Linked DNA regions of Homo sapiens: region 2 is linked to region 1. The links come from fine-mapping of genetic effects on gene expression. A gene starts in region 1. The other region holds a variant in brackets. All regions are shown on one strand. Distances are from middle to middle. Region 1 holds the start of ZC3H6 (zinc finger CCCH-type containing 6). Region 2 overlaps FBLN7 (fibulin 7).

Region 1 (11,720 bases):
AGACGTTTACAATAGCTTTGGTTCATTCTATTCTCTCATTGTCCACATCCAGCCACCAGTAAATCCTATTGGTTCTAAAACCAATCAAACCATATCCACAATCCAACCATTTTCACCTAAACCATCATCATCTGTTACCTAAATTACCACAGCAGTTCCTTTTACTATTCATTTACCTCATTTACCATACTACTCACTTACCATATACCATAGAGGATCCTGTCCCTCCTCTGTTTAATCCCCCATTAGCTCCCAGGTCACTCAAGAGTGAAATCCCTTGTGTTTTCCTCAATCATACCAGGCTCATTCCTGGTCCAGGCTTTCTCTACCTCCCACTCCCTTTATATGGATGCTCTTTCCTCAAATGTCTTGGGTCTGAATTGTTGTCTTGTATCAGGGCTCTTTGCTCAAATGTTACTCTTTCATAAGTGCTTCCCTAAACACCCTCCCCACATCCACTTGACTCCCCATCTCCCTTTCTGCTTTATCACCATTGAACACATCTGTTTTTCATGTTTATTTTCTGTCTCTCCCAAGAAAATATGTTTCATTACACCAAGTTTTTTCTTTATTGCTGTATTCCTGATCCTAGAACAATACATATTAAGCTTCATGTTTAATGAAAATGACTGAAAAGCTTCCTAACTTGTCTTCCTTCTACTGATCTCCCCTTCTGTAGTCCATTTCCTCCTATCCCCCAGGTAGTATACCAAAAAATGCATCTGATCATTCTCCTGCTTAAAAGACTTTGATGGGATCCCCACATCCTTCAGGGTCTGGCCCCAAATTTAATCCGTTTCCCCATTCCCCAAAATAGTTGTACACTCTCCACATACTAACACTTTTATCATCCCTGAACCTACTTGTGCCATTTATCCATGCTTTTCGTGTATCTCTGTATTTACTTGGCCAAAGTTTTATTCATCCTCCAGGTCTAGTTATGCCATGATGTCTCCCAGAAGCCTTCATCTGTGTACCCCCACAGCACTCAGTTCAGGCCTCCATTATAGTACTTGTGCTATACTATGTATTTACCAATCTGTTTCTGCAACTAGATTATAAGATCCCAGAGAGCAAGTTCATGATGTTGTGTCCAGAGTTCTTTTGTCAGTGCTTAACACTATACTTAGCAGAGACGAAACACTGTTAAGTCTGAGGAATGAAAATGTAATGAATGAAATTTTATAATGAATGAAATATTTGTTTATGAGAGGTTGGGGGAAAAAAAGAGTCTTCCTGAGAGTCAGAGTGCTTTACAACATCAAACCTGAGACCTGATACGAGGTTTTACATTTGCTAAAGAAAAATTTCCTTTAGTAATTTCAACAATAGTTAAATTAGTGGATTCAGGAATCAGAAGTAAGTTAATGGCTAGTCAGGAAAGTTATTTACTCCACGGAACATACTAATTTACAAACCAGATATTGTGTGGAGCAAAAAGTGTACTCTAATCTGAGAAAAGGCATCTGCAATTTTTTTAATTAAAATTGATTTAAGTGGGAAGGAAAATTGAAAATGATCTAGTGCAACTACTTCATTTCACAAATGAAAAAAATAATGAAAAGGGGAAGAGCATTAACCCAAGTTAGAAGATCAGGATCAGTACCAAGGTTTTATTCAAAATGAAGGGCTCTCTCTCAAATGTAGCACATTACAATTCCAAACTACTCAAGGATTAAAGCCCAGAACTTATTCCATTACTTTGCTGTGCAAACTTAATGAAGAGTGAAGATAATATTGCAAGTAGGAAAATAATATTGCAAGACTGAAAATAATAATACCTGGGTTCTTATCTAGGTTGTATTTATGAGATCTCAGACAATTCACTGAACCTTGTAATGCTACCTTAATTAACTACCACATGGGATTAATGTGAGAATCAAATGAAAGCCCTGTTGCAAATGAAAAGTATAATCATCTTTTCCATCCTCATCCTTTCAGGTTCTCCAGTGCAGTCTCTTAGCAAGTTTTCAATCTATATGGGGGGCCATAAACCACTTGCAATTCTGACTAGTTGGAGTTTTGTTGTTCTTGTAGTACAGGACAGAAAGCTGCGAGGGAAGGGTGGGGAGGTTGTTTATGTATTATAAACCTCCTCCCAAAGGGGAGTATTATCCATATCACCTATCAGTTAAAGACTCTTTGAGACTCACAAGCTCTTAAAAGGTTCATGCTAAAAAATTATCTTTTTCCCCAGTACAAGCCCTACAAAACCTTTTACCATTAGTATATTTCAGAAAATTCTGTAACAATTACTTGGGTTATATTTATCTTTTCCTACTCTACTACAGATGTGTCCAAAGCAGGGACTCATAGTATTTCGTCTTCAGGAGTTGTGAATTGTTTTAATTGGGTCAACATCCAGTTGAAATATAAAACTGAGCGGCTGGAGTCGTGCCTGAGAGAACTGAATGAAAAAGAACTGAACGACGAGAGACCAGAATTATACCTCCCTCTGATTTCCCTAAATCCCTAAAGACCTTTAGAAACTAGGCTCTGGGCTTATGCAAAAGTCCTCTACTACATTCTACATAGCCACAAGTAGAATTAGAAGTATTTTTATATTAATAACATCTTATAAAATACAATGTTTTAACTCCAGGTGTGAAAATATTTAAAGGAAAGTACACTAAATGGATTTTTTTTAAATTATTCATTTGGCAAACAATCTTGTGCAAAATGTTCACTATATAACATGTACAAGGCCAGGCGTGGTGGCTCACGCCTGTAATCCCAACACTCTGGGAGGCTGAAATGGGAGGATGGCTGGAGCCCAGGAGTTCAAGACCAGCCTAGGCATATAGCGAGACTCTATTTCTTTAAACGAGAAAAAAATTATGCATTCTGTGAATTCCATTTACATTTAGAATCTCATTCTCATAAACAGTAATATTTTAATTTGTATAAAATCAAAGCAATTGTAAATATAAATCATAGGCTTCATTTTTTTTCCTGCATACACAATATGCCTTAATTTTTGAAAATGTTATAAAAAGAATATCCTTGGCTGGGCACAGTGGCTCACCCCTGTAATCCCAAAACTTTGGGAGGCCAAGGCTGGTGGATCACTTGAGGTCAGGAGTTCAAGACCAGCCTGTCCAACATGATGAAACGTGGTCTCTACTAAAAATACAAAAAATTAGCCAGGTGTGGTGGCGGGTGCCTGTAATCCCAGCTACTCAGGAGGCTGAGGCAGGAGAATGGTGTGAAGGCGGGAAGTGGAGCTTGCAGTGAGCTGAGACAGTGCCACTGCACTCCAGCCTGGGCGACAGAGCGAGACTCCGTCTCAAAAAAATAAAATAAATAAAATAAAATCCTTGAGACAAAGCCTAGCTCCATATACCAAGTTTCATATATTTTTCTCCACTTAATTCACAGAAACTTTTATAACAGCATAAAATAGCTATTATATGGAAAGATACAGTATTTTGGAAGCCCGCAGATTAGTCCATTTTTTCCCCAAATTTCTTAAGAATTTCCCAGGGAGCCTATGAAAAATACCCTAGAGATTCTGATTCAGTTGCTCTGGGCAGAACAAAAATTTATTCCCCAAAGTGATTCTGATGATTAACTATCATTGGGAAACACTGATCGAGTATAGCGGTTCTCAATTTGGCACATATTAGAATTTCCTGGGGAGCTTTTAGAACTCTTAAAACCCAGGCTGAGGTCCAGACCAACAGAAATAGCGCCAATACTTTAAAGAAAAAAAGTTCCCCAGGGAAGGTTTAGAACCATTGATCTGATCTTGTAGAATTTCTCCTGACTTCTAGTTCACTTTGTTTTTGATGTAGTTGTTTTGTTTTTCATGTGGGTTGACAAAAAAAGCATGAAAAAAAAAAACCATCTCCTTCATCTCAGCACAATGATGCCACTTAACAATTGGCTAAGTTAAAGTGGAGCTAACCTTTTTGTTTCAGAAATCACTAGAAAATACTTTTAGTCCGAATTTTAAATAAAATAGACTAATCTTAATCTTTAGCTCCTACTACCAACCTATTAACATATCTTACAAATAATTCTTTAAAGTTTTCTAACCTCTAAACCAGTATTTTAAAATTTCAAATTCTTTAAAAGGTCTGTCATCACAGTTCCTTACCAGCAAAATTATTTTGATACTTGAATTTGATGGCATTGTTTTTTCATGATGTACAATACATAACTCCATATATAGAAGTTACTTTGTGCACTAAGAGAGGGGAACAGATATTCTTCCATATTAAAAAAAAAAAGGATTTTAGGCTCCATTAGCAAAACCCCATCATTGGTTTGTCCATACCTCAAGAGCAAGGTATTAGTCAACCCATTCTAAGAATTTCCTTTTTAATACAAAAGATAACGTTAAAAAAATCATTAAAAATGTGCCAAGTGCAAGCTTATCATTTTTAAAAGTGCATTTTACTTTCCAAAAATTTTTACACTTTGATTGACGTGCCCTCTGGGAATCTACTTTTATTATTACAATACTGAAGTTGTTGAAATACCATTTTTATCCCTCTCAAGATTGCTAGGTATTTAGATATTTCAAATTTCAGCAGTGTTTGTGATTTTTGCTTCTGGGTTTTAAAAAACGTGTTTAGGATGCTTTACCAAGCCGATCACATTACTACAGATAAAACTTCAGCAATGTATATAGTCTATAGTAAAACGTATATTTTTTCTTACTTCTATTCACAAAGGAGTAATTGTGAGGTTCTAGATTTTCAAATTAATATTCTAAGTAAGAATCAGATGCAATGGATTTTGTTTCAGTAAGTTTAATGAATGAAAGCCCCCCTTTCGCATTATTAAAGATATATACGAATGAAAATTTGAATTATAACCAAAATTTAAGTATGCTACAGTATACTTTGTAAATGTCCCCAAACTCGAATGGAAACAAGAATGTGCCTCTTAAGGCACAGAGCAAAAAATAAAAAATCAGAATCTCAATATTCAAGTGATACACACCATCTAGAAAATTGGGCTAGCCGGAATAATCCATGGAGTTTTTACGTTAGGGTAAAACTGTGCTAAACTAAGTTTCTGCAAAGCCTAAGTATTTTGTGTTAACATATTAAACTTGAAACTTGCCATCTCAAATTCCAAGGGATAAGACTGTATACAACAGATGGCCTTTTGGTGCTGCTTAAAACTTCCCTGAAAACCAAATGTTTATTTTTTTAGAGGTGTTCTCGGTTCTCGGGAAGCAGTCAAATATCAAAACACCCATTCCTGAAAATTCCTGGCTGGTCCTATCTGGCCGGGAGCACCGACACCTGGACGGGCAGAAGCAGGACCTCAGCACCGAGCCGGGACGCTGAGAGCCGCCCGGCGCACACGGAGCCCGCCCGGGGGGCGGGGGGCTCGCACGTGCCCGGCCGGGGGCGGGGCCGGCGCTGGCGAGCAGCGACCCCGGCTCGGGGAGGCGGGCGCGGCCGGGCCGACCTCCCCCGCGGCCGCGATCCAGCAGTTTACATAAGAGTGCGCGTCATGGAACTGACGGAGCCACACAGAGACGTCTAGGTCATGCAGGAGGCGCCCGGCCCCGGCCCGCTCCCGCCGCCCCAGACCCCTCCTCTCATCCGACAGAAAGACAGACAAGAAGGGTTCCCGACCTGTCGTGCCCTGCATGTTCAGAGTCTGTCATGTTTGGTCAAGAACGGGGCGGGGCTGGAGGGCAGGTCTGCGAGGCCGGCGGCGGCGGGGCGCGGGGAAGACCCCCCGCGCCGCCTGCGGGAACCTGCTCCCGGCCGCCGCCGACAGGTGACGAAGTGGTAAAAACTCACGGTTACTAGTGAGCGACACAGACACAGACTTTCCAGTCTATTAACAACCACGCCAGAGAGATGGGGCTCTAACTGCAAACACTGGGCAACGGCCCCGCGCTGCCGGCGCTGCCGCTCTAGTCTCTATTCGCCGCCGGTGGCTGTGGCGTGGGAGCGGGCGGGCGGCGTGCAGCGACGCGGGGATTTGGACAGTGGCCGTAACGGTGATTTCTCCTCACCAACATGGCGGCACCCGAAACAGGCGGCTCGAGAAAATGGCGCCGGCCGCAACACCTTGCCCGGGACTAAAGGGCAAGAGAGATTCCTCCGCGAGCCGCGGCCCTTGCCCAGCCCGCCGGGGCCGAGCGCGTTGACCATTGGAGGAGAGTGCCCGTCAATCACCTGCAGGGGCGGGTCTTCGCCCTTCTCTGTGCAGCGGCGGAGGCGGCAGCCTAGTGGCGGGGCCGGGCGGCGAGAGACGCGGCCGGATGGCTCCTCGAGTGTCTGCAGGAGGGGGAGGCAGCCCACGGGACCTACGAGGGCCACCAGCGCTTCTGCTCCCGGCGCAGTACGGGCCGCGGTTTTTCCTGCGAGACGCCCGCCGCCCGAGGAGTTCCAGACGCACCAAGCAAACGGGCCCCAAAACCGTTAGCCGAGGCGGGCAGGGGTGGGATAACAAAGAACAAGGCGGCTGTAGAGTCCTTAAATTTTTTTGTGAAAACCTTTGTTCTTGTAATAATAGGGAAATGCAGTTTCTCCTTCACAGTTGTAGCAAGTATCTGTTTTTGTAACGTTTAGTGTTCAGAATCATGTTTTAAGGAAAATAGCTTGCCATGCAGTTTTTTCTTGTATTTGCTGTTAAATTTACCCAATTATTACTTAAATAGGAATAGCTATTGAAATAATTATATAAACGTTACTTTATTTCGTAATAATATTAACATGTAAAATGTATGCGAGTATTTTATAAATACTATTAGGCATGCCTTTTTTTTTTTTTTTTTTTTTTTTTTTTTTTTTTTTTTCTGAGATGGAGTCTCCTCTGTCGCCCAGGCTGGAGTGCAGTGTCGCGCTCTCGGCTCACTGCAACCTCTGCCTCCTGGGTTCAAGCAATTTTCCTGCCTCAGCCTCCCGAGTAGCTGGGACTGCAGGCACGCGCCACCACGCCTGGCTAATTTTTGTATTTTTAGTAGAGATGGGGTTTCCCCATTTTGGCCAGGCTGGTCTCGAACTCCTGACTTCAGGTGATCCGCCCTCCTGGGTCTCCCAAAGTGCTGGGGTTACAGCCGTGAGCCACCGCGCCCGACCATGCATGAGTTTTTTATACTTATGAAGTGACCTTAAAAAATTTTTAAATGACAAGTCAGTGTTTTGGCCTATTTAATATATTAGTCCTGAAGGAAAGTTCCTTGCTTTTTACTAAAATGATAGACTCAATGATTAATCCAAATATCTGACTTAATTTGTCTTTCCTTAATAATACATTTTACTAATACATAAATGGAATGCATTCAAAAACAATTGCAATGAGTGGATTAAATTGGAAATGTAAAGTTTTTGATATTAACATATACATTGAAAATAAAGGCCGGGCGTAATGGCTCACGCCTGTAATCCCAGCACTTTGGGAGGCTGAGGCGGGCAGATCACCAGAGGTCGGGAGTTCGATACCCGCCTGACCAACATGGAGAAACCCAGTCTCTACTAAAAATAAAAATAAGCCAGGCGTGGTAGCCCATGCCTGTAATCCCAGCTAATCGGGAAGCTGAGGCAAGAGAATCGCTTGAACCCGGGAGGCGGAGGTTGCGGTGAGCCGAGGTCGAGTCATTGCGCTCCAGCCTGGGCAACAAAAGCGAAACTCCGTCTTAAAAAAAAAAAAAAGTCGCCCCTTTTTTTTTTTTTAAAGTTGAATACAGCCAGTGACAGGAGCTGTGGTCGCACTATTTTTTTTTTTTTTTCAGTTGAATGCAGCCAGTGACAGGACCTGTACTTATAGCCACACTTTACCATAATAAATTTGTAGGGAGCTTTCAAAAGGTACTATGAAGGTACTATGAAGAAACTATGTTAACATTTGGAGTTACATTAAAATCTCAGGACTTCGGTTTTATCGTAACTGTTTTAGTTAATTTAGGCCTTTCTGTAGCTAATTTGGGTAACTGCTTTCTTGAAGTTATCCAGAGGCCCTTGTGGTAAACAGTTGCTGTTCTTTCTTGCACTTCTGTTTTCCCCTGTCTCCTGTATCTGGAGGTCTGAGAATTTCTTTCAAGCCTTCGTTAAGGTGTTTGGTTTGTGATGGCGTAGGACAGTGCAGTTCTCTCTGGATGAAAAGCCTCCTTTTCGAACCGTTGGCATGCGCCACTTAAGTTTGATGGTAAAATTTGTCATCAGGTCTTGGTCTTTTTCTCTAGGTAACAGAAAGGGGAGGTGTGTGGGGGTGAGCATTGAGGGGCAGTGCTCCTTTGAGGCTATGGGTTTTTAGAATCTAGAAGTGCTTAGAGATCTGTGACACCTTGTCTTTAATTGCCTCAGTTAAGGAGCAATGTAGGTATCAAAGAGATTACACTAATTAATTTTAAACCTAACAGATTTTACCTAATAATGACATATGGATCATGAGAACTGCAGAACTCTTGTCACGTAATGACCTTGTCCAAACCTCAGCAAAAGGAGACCACCAAACTATAGCGAGCCTTGTAGCAGCATAAGGTCGTGTTCGTAGGATGACCGCAGATCTCTCCCCGGGCCTCTCGGTTAAATGTCTCCCAGAGAAAACTCAACACTGCCCACCTGGCCATAGGCCCTTGACCCCCTTTCTTGGAGCATTTACAAAAAAAGAGCTTACAATTGTGAGTCCTTCCTCTGTCCCCTTGACACGTATGTGTTCTCTCCTACAATTCAGGAGTATCTTTCTTAAGGACCTGAAAGCCATTCCTTTGAAATTTAATCATCTGGAAGGTTGCTATCTCCCATTCTTGGTGGGAGGGTAGAATCCTGACTTCAGTGATAATCGCCAGCTAGCTGACGCAGCTGATCTAATCACTTTTATACTGACAGACTTTGAAATGTTTTGCATGTATTCCGGCTCTTTCCCCCTCCCTTATTCTCTCTTTAAGCTGCTCAATTATCTCTGCATTGAAATGGAACGCTGCTCTTTCCCCTACTGTTAGTAATTACTGAATAAAATTGGTTTTCACCACTTTAATGTCCAGGTTTTTTTATCTTTGTCAACCTTCCCCACCCTCTATCCACACAAAAATTGTAACGGACATAAAGGTACCAACACTTTATTTTGCTAAATAAATTAAACATATTAAACATCTTACGGTTATTTCATAAAAGACATTTTAACATCAAGAAAGTAGGAAGGATATCATTATTTTTGTTTCGTTGGTTTTTGTTGGGTTTTTTTTTGAGACAGAGTTTCACTTCACAGGCTGGAGTGCAGTGGCACGATCTCGGCTCACTGCAACCTCTGCCTTCTGGGTTCAAGCAATTCTCATGCCTTAGCCTCTCGAGTAGCAGCTAGCATTACAGGCACGCACCATCATGCCCGCTAATTTTCGTATTTTTCATAGAGACGGTGGTTTCTGCCATGTTGGTCAGGCTGGTCTCTATCTCCTGACCTTGAGTGATTCATCCGCCTCGGCCTTCCAAAGTGCTGGGATTACAGGCGTGAGCCACCGCGCCTGGCCAAGGATATACTTTAAAAAGCCAATTACTTTACTTTGAATTCCTTTACATTTAGTGTTAAGAAAAATTCCTTTTATTGCCCGTGTTTTGTCCCAGATGGTAAGAATAAGCCCTGGTATACCAAGGCTCCCAATATTGGACCACTAGACATTCGGAGACTGGTCAGACTTGGGACAAAAACGGTCTCCTAGGTGATCATCCTAGCTGGAAGATTAGGGGACCCTTACCCCATCCTTCCTGGTAGCTTATACAAACCCTAAATGTATATGTGGCCCTAGGCAGGGGGAGGGAGCCCCAGTTACAACTGTTTTCTGTCTACCTACCGGAATAGGGGCTTAGAGTTAGAATTAAATTGGCAGGAATAATTCCCCGTACAGTACACACTGAGGTTACAAATGAATACTTGTGTTAGTCACTGGAAAGTTTTTAACACACACACACACACCCTAAAAATACAAGCATCTGAACAGTAGCCATGTCTTTGAAAAAGTACTTTTATTTTATTTTAAAACAGAGTCTCACTCTGTTACCCAGGCGGAGTGCAGTGGCATGATCTCGGCTCGCTGCAACCTCCACCTCCTGAGCTCAAGTGATTCTCCTGTCTCAGCCTCCCGAGTAGCTGGGCCTACAGGCGTGCACCACCACACCCGGCTAATTTTTGTATTTTGTAGAGACGGGGTTTCACCATGTTGGCCAGGCTGGTCTCTAACTCATGACCTCAGATGATCCGCCCGCTTGGGCCTTCCAAAGTGCTGGGATTACAAGTGTGAACCACAGCACCCAGCCTGAAAAAGTACTTTTAAAATGTTGCCTCCAATTCTTTTGCAGCTCATAAGCATGATGATTAGATTTTCATGTGCACGCGTGAGATGTGCCTCATCAAGCCTTGTTATGACCTCAGTACATCCAGATGTGCTGGAGTGCAGTGGCACAATTATAGTGCTTAGTGATCTGTGACACCTTGTCTTTAATTGCCTCAGATAAGGAGGAGTGTATGTATCACAGATATCACACTAGATAATACAAGAACTAGAACTGCAGCCTTCCACCTCAGCCACCGCCATCACCCGCTGTCCACACCCCCCCACTGCCCCAAGTAGCTGGGACCACTGGTACACTCTATCACATCTGGCTTATTTTTTGTAGAGGCGAGGTCTTACTATGTGCCCAGGCTGGCTAATTTATTTGTATTTTTGTAAAGACAGGGTCTCGCTGTGTTATTTAGGACTCATTTCTCTTAATACAATTTTGTAATTTTTTCCTATGTCTTTATTTTTGTAGAGACAGGGGCTCGCTGTGTTGCCCAGGCTGGTCTTGAACTCCTGGCCTCAAGCAATCCTCCAGCCTCAGCCTTCCAAAGTACTAGCAATACAGGATTGAGCCACCACACACGGCCTTAAGTTTTAATATAGAGTTTAGAAGTAGTCATTTAGAATTTATAATTTGATAGAACTTTTAGAGTTATCAAGTTCCATAAAGAAAACTTGAGATTTTTATTAGCATTGCCTTGAATTGATAGACCAATTTTGAAAGAACTGACAATTGCTTAGTTGTGTCTTTCATTTTGTGAATATGTAATATCTCTCCATTTATTTAGGACTCATATCTCTTAATACAATGTTGAAATTTTTCCTATATGTCTTTCATTTATATAAATATCTTGCATCTTTTATAGATTTATTCCTAAGCATTTGGTATTTGTATTACTTTTCTGTTGCTGCATAACAAGTTACAACATACCTAGTGTTTTATTTCTTCCTTTCCAATCCTTAGACTCCAGTTTCTTTTTCTGCCCTGGCTAGGATCTCCAGCACTAGGACATTCAATCCTGTGTTAAATAGAAGTGGTTATATTGGATATACTTGTCTTGTTTCCCAATGTTCAAGGAGATGACTATAAAGTTTTCCCATTTAGGATGATATCTGGGGATTTTATAGACAGTCATCCCTCAGCATACATAGGGGATTGGTACCAAGACCCCTGCATATACCAAAATCCACGCATACTCGGCCTTGGCAACTCTATTATATGAAAAGTGGGTCCTTTGTATATGCTGGTTTCTGCACCCCTCCGATACTCCCAAGTTTGGTTGAAAAAAATTCTCATATAAGTGATTCATTGATTTTTTTCCTTAAGAATTCACTTTTTACTGTAGGTCATAATTTTTTACTCTTATTTTTATTGTCTCTGTCTCATCAATTTTCACTCAATCATATTATATCTTTATTCCTGCTTTCTTTTTTGGTTATTATTTTATTTTTAACTTCTTCATTCATTAAT
Region 2 (11,720 bases), 110 kb after region 1:
ACTCTCAGCTCATATAATCTCCAGCAACAAGGTTCTATAATTTCATTTTTCATTTCTTCAATTGTGCCAAATTCTTCCCTTCCCTGGGGGTCTTTGCTCATTCTCCTTCCTTTTCTTTTCTTTTTTTTTTTTTTTCACTTTCGAGACAGGGTCTCACTCTGTCACCCAGGCTGGAGTGCAGTAGCATGATCTCGACTCACTGCAATCTCTGCCTCCCGGGTTCAAGTGATTCTCCCAGCTCAGCCTCCAGAGTAGCTGGGATTACAGGCGCATGCCACCATGCCCGGCTAATTTTTGTATTTTTAGTACAGATGAGGTTTTGCCAAGTTGGCCAGGCTGGTCTCGAACTCCTGACCTCAAGTGATCCACTCACCTTTTCTTTTTCTTTTCTTTTCTTTTCTGTTTTTGTTTTGTTTTGTTTTGTTTGAGATGGAGTTTTGCTCTTGTCACCCAGGCTGGAGTGCAATGGTGCGATCTCAGCTCACTGCAATCTCCGCCTCCCGGGTTCAAGCGATTCTTCTGCCTCAGCCTCCCAAGTAGCTGAGATTACAGGCGCCTGCCACCACACCCAGCTAACTTTTTACATTTTTATTAGAGACGGGGTTTCACCATGTTGGCCAGGCTAGTCTCGAACTCCTGACCTCAAGTCATCCATCCACCTCGGCCTCCCAAAGTGCTAGGATTACAGGCATGAACCACCGCGCCTGGCCCCTTCTTCCTTTTCTTAAAACAGTGTCTGCCCTGTGCTGCCCAACTACCTGCTCTTTGCCTGGCTAGATCCCATTCCTCCTTTCATCTCAGTGTCATTGTCCCCTGCTCAGAGGCCCTCAACTGCTCCTTGCCCCGTGCTGTTTACTCTGTCCCTTGTTAGGTCATGTGTGGCCCTCACCACAAACGTCAGCTCGCTTCCCTTGGTGTGTGGCTGCCTGCTTTGCTTTGCCTCCCCTCTTAGCCTGTGCACCCCAGAGGCCAGGGTCGTGTCTGTGGGATTCGACATTGAGTCCCTGGCATCTGGCACCAGCTTTGTGAATGGCTGGTGCTCAGTAAAAATTGGCTGAATGAAAGAATGAAGGTTAAAAATAAAGGGTGGGGACGACTGACAAAGATTCCTTTCCACCAGCATGACGATAAGTGACAACGGTATTTATATCTCTCAAATTCGTTTCTTTGGTTACCCACGTTGTCAAAGGCACAAGATCTTCAGCTATGGTTACCAATTCAGAAAGCTTTACGTCTTAAAAACATGGCCTTCAGAGAAAGGAGGAGGAAAAAAGGAAAATAAAGGAGAAATGGAGAAAGCCAAGTGGCTGCTTTCCACTCTGGAGTTCTGGAGTCCACCTACGCCTGCTGTTTTTTTGTTTTGTTTTGTTTGTTTTTGTTTGTTTGTTTTTCTCCCGAGACGGAGTCTTGCTGTGTCACCCAGGCTGGAGTGCAGTGGTGTGATTTCGGCTCACTGCAACTTCTGCCTCCCAGGTTCAAGCAATTCTCCCTGCCTCAGCCTCCTGAGTAGCTGGGATTACAGGTGCCCACCACCACGCCTAGCTAATTTTTGTATTTTTTAGTAGAGATGGGGTTTCACCACGTTGGCCAGGCTGGTCTTGAACTCCTGACCTCAGGTGATCTGCTGCCCTGGCCTCACAAAGTGCCGGGATTACAGGCGTGAGCCACCGCTCCTGGCCTGCCTGCTGTTTTTTAATGGCGTAATTGTGTACACACAATTTCCTTCCCTGCCAAGTTGGGTTCATCACTGTCTTTCCAAGCAGCTGACTAGAGTTGGAGTGAGGGACAATTATGACAGCACTGCCAAATTTGTCACTGGCACTGATATTTTGGGCCTTGAAATGAATTCTCTGTAATTAAGAAGATTATGCCCCACCCCCACTCTGTGGTCATAACACATGGCAACCACACGACTGGTGGTTTGGAACATGCAGTGGGTGTGCTCAGTGGTTGCTGGTAAGTTTCTAGGTTTGGTCACTAGATTGTTGAGTTCCAGCCTGTGTCCCGTCCACACCCTTAATACTGTCACAATTGGTCATCAAACAGCAGTCAGGAGCACTATTTCTCCCTCCTGGCAAGTTTGGCTGACACCGCTTTGAGGCTCTTGCTGGAGACAACAACCATGAATCACATCAATTCCTGCTGAGAACAGAAGTGTCGGTGCAGGCAGAGTCTACTCACTTAGGAGGGGCCGTGGCCAGCAGCTGCTGGAGCAGCTTGGTTGTAACACATGAGTATTTTTGTTCAATCACCACCATGGGGTCAATGCCCAGGCCCCATCTATGCTTCAAGAGAAGAAAAATCTCCATCTAAGATCTCATCCTGGACTGGCCATCACCTTGTTCCCTGAGTTAGTCCTTCCCAAGTTTTTGATAGCACATGCTGTCTGAGTAGGCATCCCGAAGGTGGGCTGCATCATGCAGCTCTTTGGTGTGGAAGTCAGGGTAGAAGGAAAAAGGGCTATGCAGGAGGCTATGGGGAGATGAGAGACGAGCACAAGGTGCATCTGGAATGAACTGGTACGTCCAAGGGCAAGACTCGGGAGGATACCACGTTGGACCACGGGAAAGGTCAGTAGGCTTGCTGGACGCCTGGCAGGTGGGACCGTCTGCTCTGCACCATGGTCCTCCAGGCAAAGTCCGCCCTCCACATCTCAAGAAAGGGAAGTCTGCTCAGCAGGGCTGTGGGCTCTGATCTTTGTAAGAGTTGGCTTGGCCTTCCCAAAACATCAGGGCAAGTAGCAGTGAACATAACATAACATAACATAACATAACATAACATAACATAACATAACATAACGTGTCTTTCCTGGACAGAGATGACACACATACATCTGTCTACTGTTTTGCCTGTGGCTGGCAGTCATTCTGACTGGTTTGGGCCCAAAATGCATTAGCACTTCAAAATTTTCAATATATTTTCTGCTTCTGGCAATAGCAAGAACGAACCAAGTGGTGCTTCTCAAAATTTAGTTAACAGCAGTATTACTTAGGGAACATATTAAAAATGCAGATGTTTTGGGTCTCATCTATAAAAGTTCCGACTGGATCGGTCTTTTGAGACCTCAGAATCTATCTTTCATGAGCTTCCTGGGTGACTCTGGAGGACCTGAATGTTTGAGATCATGGCACAAGTTAGGACACGGCAGGACCCTCTTTTCCATTGAGGGGGTCCTGCTGCAGCGAGGCAGGTGCAAATGCATAACTAAAGCAACCAAGGTCAAGAAGGAAGCTCGTGGACACACCCAGGATCCTCTAGAAAGGCATTCTTGGCGAGCCACTAGGATGGAGATGGACTGTGGGGAGCGCTTTGGGTCTCCACCTTTGTCAAGTAACCACATGTTCCTTTGCTTGAGTCACTTCTCACGACTATGTTCCTGGGCCTCCAGTGTTTTGTATCTATCTCCCTAAAAAGGCATTCTTTCTGCTATCATCTCTGATGAACTCATCTTTTCATTTTAATCACATGATGTGCATTGTAGTATGTCGCCATTGAGGACAGAATATTTGGATAATATCTGAGCAAGCAAGAAAAAACAGCACACACATAAGTAAGATGTGCTTTCGCTTGCAGCACCGCTTGGGGGTGCGTGGGCAGGTGCAGCCCTTCTGCTGAGTGGCAGGCAGTGCTCAGTTCAAAGCGAGCCTGAAGCCAGTAGGCCCTCTCCAGCCACAGATACACAGCCCAGAGACAAAGTAGGGCGATAAGAAGGCCTTGTCAACATTGTTTGTGGTGGCCGGGAGTTGACTGCAATCAGGTGCCCATGGCAGGGGGTGGACAGATCAGATGTGGGGGTGCACCCCAGAGAGGACGAGGCAGCTATCAGAGGCACTGGAGCAGACTGCACGTGGCAATGCAAATGGGTCCTGAAAGTGCGGAGTAGACCGAGAAGGAAACCAACCAGGGTCTGTAACTCAATCTGTAAGTTAAAAATACTGACACCCAAAACAATAAAAATGAAATATCTGTGTGTACCCATCTCCCCCGCCATGGGTTATCACCCAGGAGGTGCTTAACCTGGCTTGAGATCTTTCAGAGTCAAGTAAGTAAATACCAGATATTGGCATTTCCCCTGTTTTGTTCGCATGTTACATGACTTTTACTTCCTGACTGGTTCCTAGGTGGGTCTGAGAGCCAGTCATCAACCTTTGAACCATCATCACTCTTTCCAGGGGTCAGGAAAGAGAAGCCTAAATTGTAAATGTGATTCTGGTTTCCCTGAGCTTCTCATGGCAATCCATACTCATCTTTAGGGATGGCATACTTTCTGGAGTTCCTCTATGTTTTCAAGTAATTTAAGCATCCAAAGTCCTCTCTTGGCCAGGTGTGGTGGATCACACCTGTAATCCCAGCACTTTGGGAGGCCGAGGCAGGCAGATAACTTGAAGCCAGGAGTTGGAGACCAGTCTGGCCAACATGGTGAAATCCCTTTTCTACTAAACATACGAAAGTTAGCTGAACGTGGTGGTGGGCACCTGTAGTCCCAGCTACTCAGGAGGCTGAGGCAGGAGAATCGCTGGAACCCGGGAGGCAGAGGTTGCAGTGAGCTGAGATTATGCCACTGCACTCCAGACTGGGCAACGGAGCGAGACTCCGTCTCAAACAAAAACAAAAACAAAAACAAAGTCCTCTCTCTACTCTGCTTTTGCAATCTTCTTGTTTATATAATGTCCGTGTTTCTCCTTCAACTCTTTGGCTAGAATCATGGACATTCTGCCTCAGCAGATGTCCCACGAACCTTGCTCTGAAAATGACTGGTGAATGGTAGCCAAGATTTTTTTGACCATGGGTTTTTGAAAAGCCAACAGATTTTTGTGCCAAGGCTGATTTTCCTCTATATCAAAAAAGTGCTGTTTTTAAACCTAGCACAGAGAGAAGCCTTCTCATGCCTCCCCGACACAGTGGACTCTCCTGGAGCCTCTTGATACCAAGTCCCAATGCAGACAGAAAGGACACCTGAGGAGTTTCCTCAGCCCCAGAGGTTACCAGCAGCCTCACAGACAGACTGCAGGCCCAGAACGGAGCAGCCACAGCAGCATCATCCTGCAGTACCTTCCTCTGGTCCCTTTCCCCAACCCATGAGCAGCTTCTTGCCCTCACATTGATAAGAACAAGTCACTGGTGTCCAGAGCAGAGAGTGGTGTGAAGGAGCGCAGACTCTGGGGTCAGAGTGTCCAGGTGCCAAGCATCTTAACTGTGCCGCCCACCCCCTAGCTGTGTAACCTTAGGCAAGTTCTTGAACCTCTGTGTGCCTCAGTTTCCCCATATGCAAAACAAGACTAAATTATTGTGAAGATATAGTGAGCTCATACAGATAGAGACCAGCGCCAACCTGGCATGGAGGTGAGTGATCAGGCACATTGGCTGCTGTTCTGTGGTTGAGGAATGATTAAAGAACCAAGCAGAAAATGTTCCAAGGAATGACCCTTTCTATGCAAGAAACCCTTGCTATACTGTGATGGGTCCAGCGCAGTGGGATGGGAAGGAGAGACGATACCTCTACAGTGGGGCTGCTCCCCTGTCCAGGTGCCATTGGGAAGACACACCACGCTGCTGGGCCCGACCAGCCGGAACCCAGGGTTGCAGGTAAAATGGACTTCGTGATCCACTAAGTACTTGCTTCCAAACTTTCTGCCGTCTGCGGGGGTGTTCAGAGCCGGGCAGGAAACTGTAAGGAGAGATGGAAGGATTACGAGCTCCTCATCCTGGACCACAGCCCTTAGACATTACTGAATTACAGGACTTCCCATCTCGAAGTGCCCTCTGTTGCATGCCTGCTGCAGGCTGTGCACTGTGCTGGTCATTCTGCATGCTGCGTCTCATCAAGTCCTCAAAGCTCTCTTGGGGATGGGTGGTACGATGCCTGCTTAGCAAAAGGTGATGAGACTGGGGCTCAGAGACACTAAGTGCTGTGTGCAAGGCCTCGAAGCGTGGGAGGCCCACCCTGCAATGATCCGCTTCATCACTGCCACCTACTCACTCTGATTTTCTGGGGCTCCAGCCCCCCTGGGTTTCTTTAGGTCTCCTGAACAGGCCGGGCTCAGCCCCAGCTCCAGGCCTGGGATTTTGCTCTTCTCTCTGCCTGGAATGTTCTTTCCTCAGAGCTTCCACAACTGGCTCCTTCTCACTCTCCAGGTTTCCACTCATATGCCACCACCTCCCCGCGTGTTCCCTGGCCACCGTGCCTAACCCAGACCTCCCCAGACACTCTTCCCCAGGTGCTCACTCTGCTGTCTTCTCAGTATCTGTAACCATCCGAACTTTCTTATTGACTTGCCTCTTTCTAGATATGCGGTCAGTCCTCTCCATCAGAATGCATCTGGCCTATGTTCCTGTGTATCCCCAGCACCAGCCCACTGCCTGGCACATAGTGAATACTGGATAAATCATAAATCATTCTTGAACAAATGAATGAATGGAGCCTTATTTATTGCATCTTTACTATGTGCCAGGCA[C/T]TATATTAGGGACTTAGGCAGGCACTATATTAGGGACTTGGGCTATATCCATGAACAAAATAGACAAAACCCAACCCTCAGGAAGCCCACCATCTAGCAGGGGAGATAATAAGCAATGGCGAAGTGTGGGGCCATGTAGAAAATGAAAGCAGGGAATGATGCTGGAGATGCTGGAGAGAGGGCATCATTTTGAATACAGTGGTCAGGGCAGGCCTCACCAGAACGAGTTGAAGGTGAAGGCACAGCCAGACAGATGTCTGGGGAGGGCAGAGGGACAGCTGGTCAAACATCCTGAGGTGGGGATGTGCCTGGCAGGTCTGAGGAATGTCAAGGAGGCAACAGGACTGGAATAGAGTGGACGAGGTGGAAAGTAGTTAGACATGAGTCAGGCAACAGGATCAAGACAGCTCAGAGTTACACGGGGCATTGGAAAGAAAACAAAAAGGCCATGCAACTTGTTCTCCGTGTGAGACCGGGCCTCTGGAGGTCTCTCTCAGCAGCACTCCTGCTGCGGTTTGATTGTGAAGTGCCCGTACAAGAGGAAGGGGAGGGAAGCTCAGGCCAGGGTAGTAGCTGAGCATGAGGGACATGGTTCGAATCCTGGCTGCTCTGTGAAGATTTCCCGAAGGACTGATGTGGTTGGAGAGAGACGGGGTGAAGCTAGCCTGTTCCTCTTCTTTTTGCAACAGAGCATCACGCATGGGCGACGAGGGAATGCCCAAAGTTAGGATGGCTTGGATTTGGATTCAGTTTAGATGGAAATTCAGAGCCACTTCTAAAATGCATTTAAGGTAAATTCCAAGTGTCATTTGCCATGTTCATATTTTAAACAGGCACAAACAGAACTGTTGCTTCAACTGTGCAGGTCAAAGCAAGTGACAGAGTCACTGAGCATCCCCCATGAGGATGCACTGATCAGGGGTGTCCTGGACCAGAGGCCATTAAGGAGCGTGATGGGCCTCCCTGTCCAGGAGTGCAGCTGGCAGGATGGTGTAGCCCTGCCCAAAATCCCACCTGGGCCGGACACAACCTAGGGTTCTTTGAGGAGCAGCCGTGGCAGCCTGAGCTGGGGCGGAGGGAGGTGCCGGACCCTCCGAGGATGCTCGGTGGCCTTTGGTGATTGGGGAATATCTGCCCATTGCTGCATCGCCTTCCTTGAGTAAAGCTCCAAGTTGGCCCCCAGTGGTAATAACCTTGTGAGTAGCAAGCGAGTGAGAGCTCACATCCCAGGACTCGGCTGCTCCCGGGGTTCTGCCTCAGCCTCTGAAATAAATTACTTTATAGTTCTTTTTTTTTACATCTAGTACTTTATTGCGTTAAAGAGTTTTAAAATGCATTGGGGGAAAATAGTAGGGTCTCTTTGGGGATGAAAAATCTTTAAAAACCTCGACAAAAGAAAACTACCTGCAACTCACAAATACACCATACCTGAATAGATTGAACAGTATCTGGCACTTAATAGATGCTTAATAAATGTGAATGGAGTGGATTAATGGATACAAATTAATTAAAAATCAATTTGTAGTCACATCCCAAATGGGAGCTGAAGGCCCTTCTCTAGTGACAGAAGGGGAACGTGTCCTTTGGTTGATTCTGTTGGCGAGAAGCACATCCTACTGAGTGTGCAGAGCCACAGCGAAGCTCCCTGCGCCTTCCGAGGTGAAGTTAGCATGTAAGGAGTGAGACCCACAGTTAAGCAGTCTCAGCAACATGGGGACATGAATCCGCTGAGGCTGCTCTGGATGAACCCTGAAGCTGATGGGTTGTGATGATGCACCCAGGAAACAGGAGGGAGGTACTTCATATGGAAGCCAGAGAGGAAGACCAAGAATTCTCCAGAACTGGAAATTATTCTTCCTGACTCCCAGCAAATTCCCTTAAAAAAAAAAAAAAAAGGCAAAACAGGCCTGGCACAGGAGCACCCGCCTGTAATCCCAGCACTTTGCGAAGCTGAGGCTGGAGGATCGCTTGAGCCTGGGAGTTCAAGATCAGCTTGGGCAACATAGTGAGACCCCATCTTTACAAAATTTTCAAAATCAGGTGCAGTGGTGTGCACCTGTAATCCTAGCTACCTAGGAGGCTGAGGTGAGAGGATCGCTTGAGCCTGGGAGGCTGCAGTGAACTAGGATCACTCCACTGCTCTCCAGCCTGGGTGACAGAGCGAGACCTTGTCTCTCTTTTAAAAAGCAATAAGGTAGTTTTCCCACTATGTGCCATTTGATCTGGGCAGGTGTCTGGCTTTCCTCCAGGTGCGGGCCCAACCCCCACCACACCCTGAAAAGGGATCCTGACAGCTGCCTGTCCTCTGCAGGGCTGTCACAGGATCAGCCTCTGCACGCATAAAGTACCCAGCACGGGGTCCCCCACACACTTAGAAATACAATACATGATGGCGATTTTTTAAAAAGAGAATTTGGCACTTTAAAAAATGTTGTACATTTCAGAGATGAAAGCCCCTGAATCTTGGGAAGGAGGATGAATAATGTAATAATAACTGCCTTTCTATCTGTCTAGCGGGCAGGGCCCTCTCACATGGGCAGGGCCCTCTCACATGGGCAGGGGAATTGTATAACATTCCCTGTGGGCTCCACTGAAACTCCCAGGGACCGCAGGCAGCTCTGACCCCATGAAAACAAGGAAGGCTTTGTGGAGTCAGGCCTTGACCGCTAACTTACTTGTCTTGGCCTCAGTTTCCCCATCTGAGGCAGGAAGGAAAGACACCCTGCCTGCACCATGGAGTTGGGGTGTGTGGAGCCCCAGTGAGGGCTTGGGCCTCACAGTGCCTTGGAAAGTGTGAGGCTTGGCTGGTGGTTATTTCTGCAGCTGTGGAGCCAAGGAAAACAGGAACGGACTCAGTGCCGTTGAGAGCTGGATTTGCCACCATCATCTCCGAGAAGGTAGGAAATCCAACGCCTTCCCCAGGAAACTTCAACTCACTCAACAAAGACAGCCCTTGATAAATGTGTCTGCAGTGAGTAAATGATGTCAGATATTCCACAGGCTCCTGACTTTGAATGAACATGATGACTGGCCCCTGTCCCCCAGCACCCTAAGACACCGGAGGAAAACCAGCCGCCCATCTCTGGGTCTTGGCGGTGTGAAAGCTGTTACAGGGCAAGCATGAAAAAGTGCCCTTGTGTCTGTCAGAGTCCTGCCCTCATGGGAGGGAGTCTGGGGTGTCGGCTGTAGCCTCATCAGACAAGTGGAACTTGTCCTCAGCAGCCCTTCCCTCCCAACCGTCCTGGTACTAACGGGGACTCCCTGGAGGGTGCACTTTCACGCCTGAAGCACTGGAGCCAACCTTGGTCATGGACTGGAACCAGTGTATTGCACTGGCTCGGGCTGAGTGTGTGTGTGTGTGTGTGCGCGTGTGCGTGCGTGTATGCGTGCTTGTGTGTGCGTGTGTGTGCGTGCGTGTGTGCGTGTGCGTGCGTGTGCGTCTGCGTGTGCGTGCGTGTGTGCGTGCGCGTGTGTGCGTGTGCGTGCGTGTGCGCGTGCTTGTGTGTGTGCGTGCGTGTGTGCGTGTGCGTGCGTCTGCGTGTGCGTGTGCGTGCGCGTGTGCGTGCGCGTGTGTGTGCACGCACAGAGGGTGTGGAGGAACGCAGTGCTTTCCACTCAACTCTGCTATGAACTTAAAACTGCTCTAAAAAATTATCTTAAAGTAAAATCAAAAATGAAAACAAAACCAAAACTGGATCCAACTTGTGGACGGGGAAGGGAAAAGCAGTGCGTGATCTAAAAGTGGCGCCTTGCAACAGTTTGGTCCGTATGAAGACGTGATAGTTGTTAAGGCCAGAATGAAAAGGCTGAAGAAGAAAAGGGGTGACATTGAGGCTGAGGGAGAAGAAAGGGGGCAGCTGCCTTTCTAATGTGCTCCCCCCACCCCCACTGCCACCAACCAGGCTTACAAATGGGCCACAGATTGGCCCGGCGCGGTGGCCCACGCCTGTCATCCCAGCACTTTGGGAGGCCGAGGCGGGCGGATCACGAGGTCAGGAGATCGAGACCATCCTGGCTAACAAGGTGAAACCCCGTCTCTACTAAAAATACAAAAAATTAGCCGGGCGTGGTGGCGGGCGCCTGTAGTCCCAGCTACGCGGGAGGCTGAGGCAGGAGAATGGCGTGAACCCGGGAGGCGGAGCTTGCAGTGAGCCGAGATCGCGCCACTGCACTCCAGCCTGGGCGACAGAGCGAGACTCCGTCTCAAAAAAATAAATAAATAAATAAATAATAAATAAAAAAGGGGGGGCCACAGTTGGAAGATGGAAGGTGATGGGGGAAGGGTGAGGGGTGACGAGGGGCCTCCAGCTGGGAGCGTCTCGGGGAGAGTGCTCGAGTGCTGCGCTGCCGCCCCAGCGGTGCCGACGTGGGGACCCACCTGGAAGGGCATCTGGGCCCACCCTGCCCACAGAGTTCTGCAGCGCGGCCAGCCGGCTCTTCATGTGGCGGATGCCCTCGGCGAAGCGTGTCTCCTGGCCCTTCAGCAGCTGCTGCAGCTGGCGGATGGCCGAGAGGAGCTGCTGTTTGCTGAGACAGTTCTGCGGAGAGAAGACATCGCCGCCACCACCCATTGAGACTGACTCAGTCCCACATGCTTGTCTGAGCTTCCGAAATCGCCGAAGCCACGGGGTCCAAACCGCGTTTGAAGCTCACTCAACGCAACGTAAAAGTGACCTGCCGCTGGACAGCCCCAAGTACATGCATGGTAGCCCCAGTTCACCCCTTGACAAAAACAAAATGCAGGCAGGACGGATGACTCTAAATGACCGGGTGGATGAACAGTTATTTGAACCCAAAGAGCCTTATAATCACCACGCTGCCACTCTGAGAGATTCTCTCTAATTCTTCACTCTAAGTTAATGCTCTGAAAACCCTGGGCCTTGGCAAACATTTTCTTTCTGTCACTCTTAGACATTTTTAAAAGCAAAGGGCCAATAATACATGTAAAACAGGCAAAACAGGAATGCCCAATGGTTCCTATTCTTTAAAGACATATAACATGGGAAATAAGAAAAAAAAAAACTCACTAGAGTTAAAGAGGCATTCAATAAAAGTCAATGTTCAGTTCTGATGATTTTTTTTTTAAGCCATAGAAAGGCAGAAAATGGAGGATCATGCTTATCATGATAAAGGCTACCTAACTTAAAGCAGCATCAAGCATCATACTTTTTGTTTGCTTGTTCAAACAACAGAAACTTATTTCCTCACAGTTCCGGGGCTAGAAGTCCAAGATCAAGGCATCGGCAGTGTTAGTTTCTGGTGATG

Evidence for each region.
Region 2: its variant is fine-mapped to the expression of ZC3H6 in whole blood (TOPMed, PIP 0.99).

The regions. Positions count from the first base shown.
Region 1 is chr2:112,269,904-112,281,623 of GRCh38, reverse strand. ZC3H6 (zinc finger CCCH-type containing 6) reads right to left here and starts at 6,027. Exons shown (of 12, transcript NM_198581.3): 1 at 5,598-6,027. The coding sequence starts at 5,629. It also overlaps the pseudogene LOC124906182. RefSeq lists a silencer at 5,258-5,737 and enhancers at 5,928-6,137, 5,753-6,325.
Region 2 is chr2:112,158,949-112,170,668 of GRCh38, reverse strand. FBLN7 (fibulin 7) reads right to left here. Exons shown (of 8, transcript NM_153214.3): 2 at 10,834-10,993; 3 at 5,498-5,668. Among named protein-coding and RNA genes, the nearest start is that of FBLN7, 26 kb to the right of the region's middle. RefSeq lists an enhancer at 1,852-2,365. The variant C/T (reference allele first, on the strand shown) is at 6,456.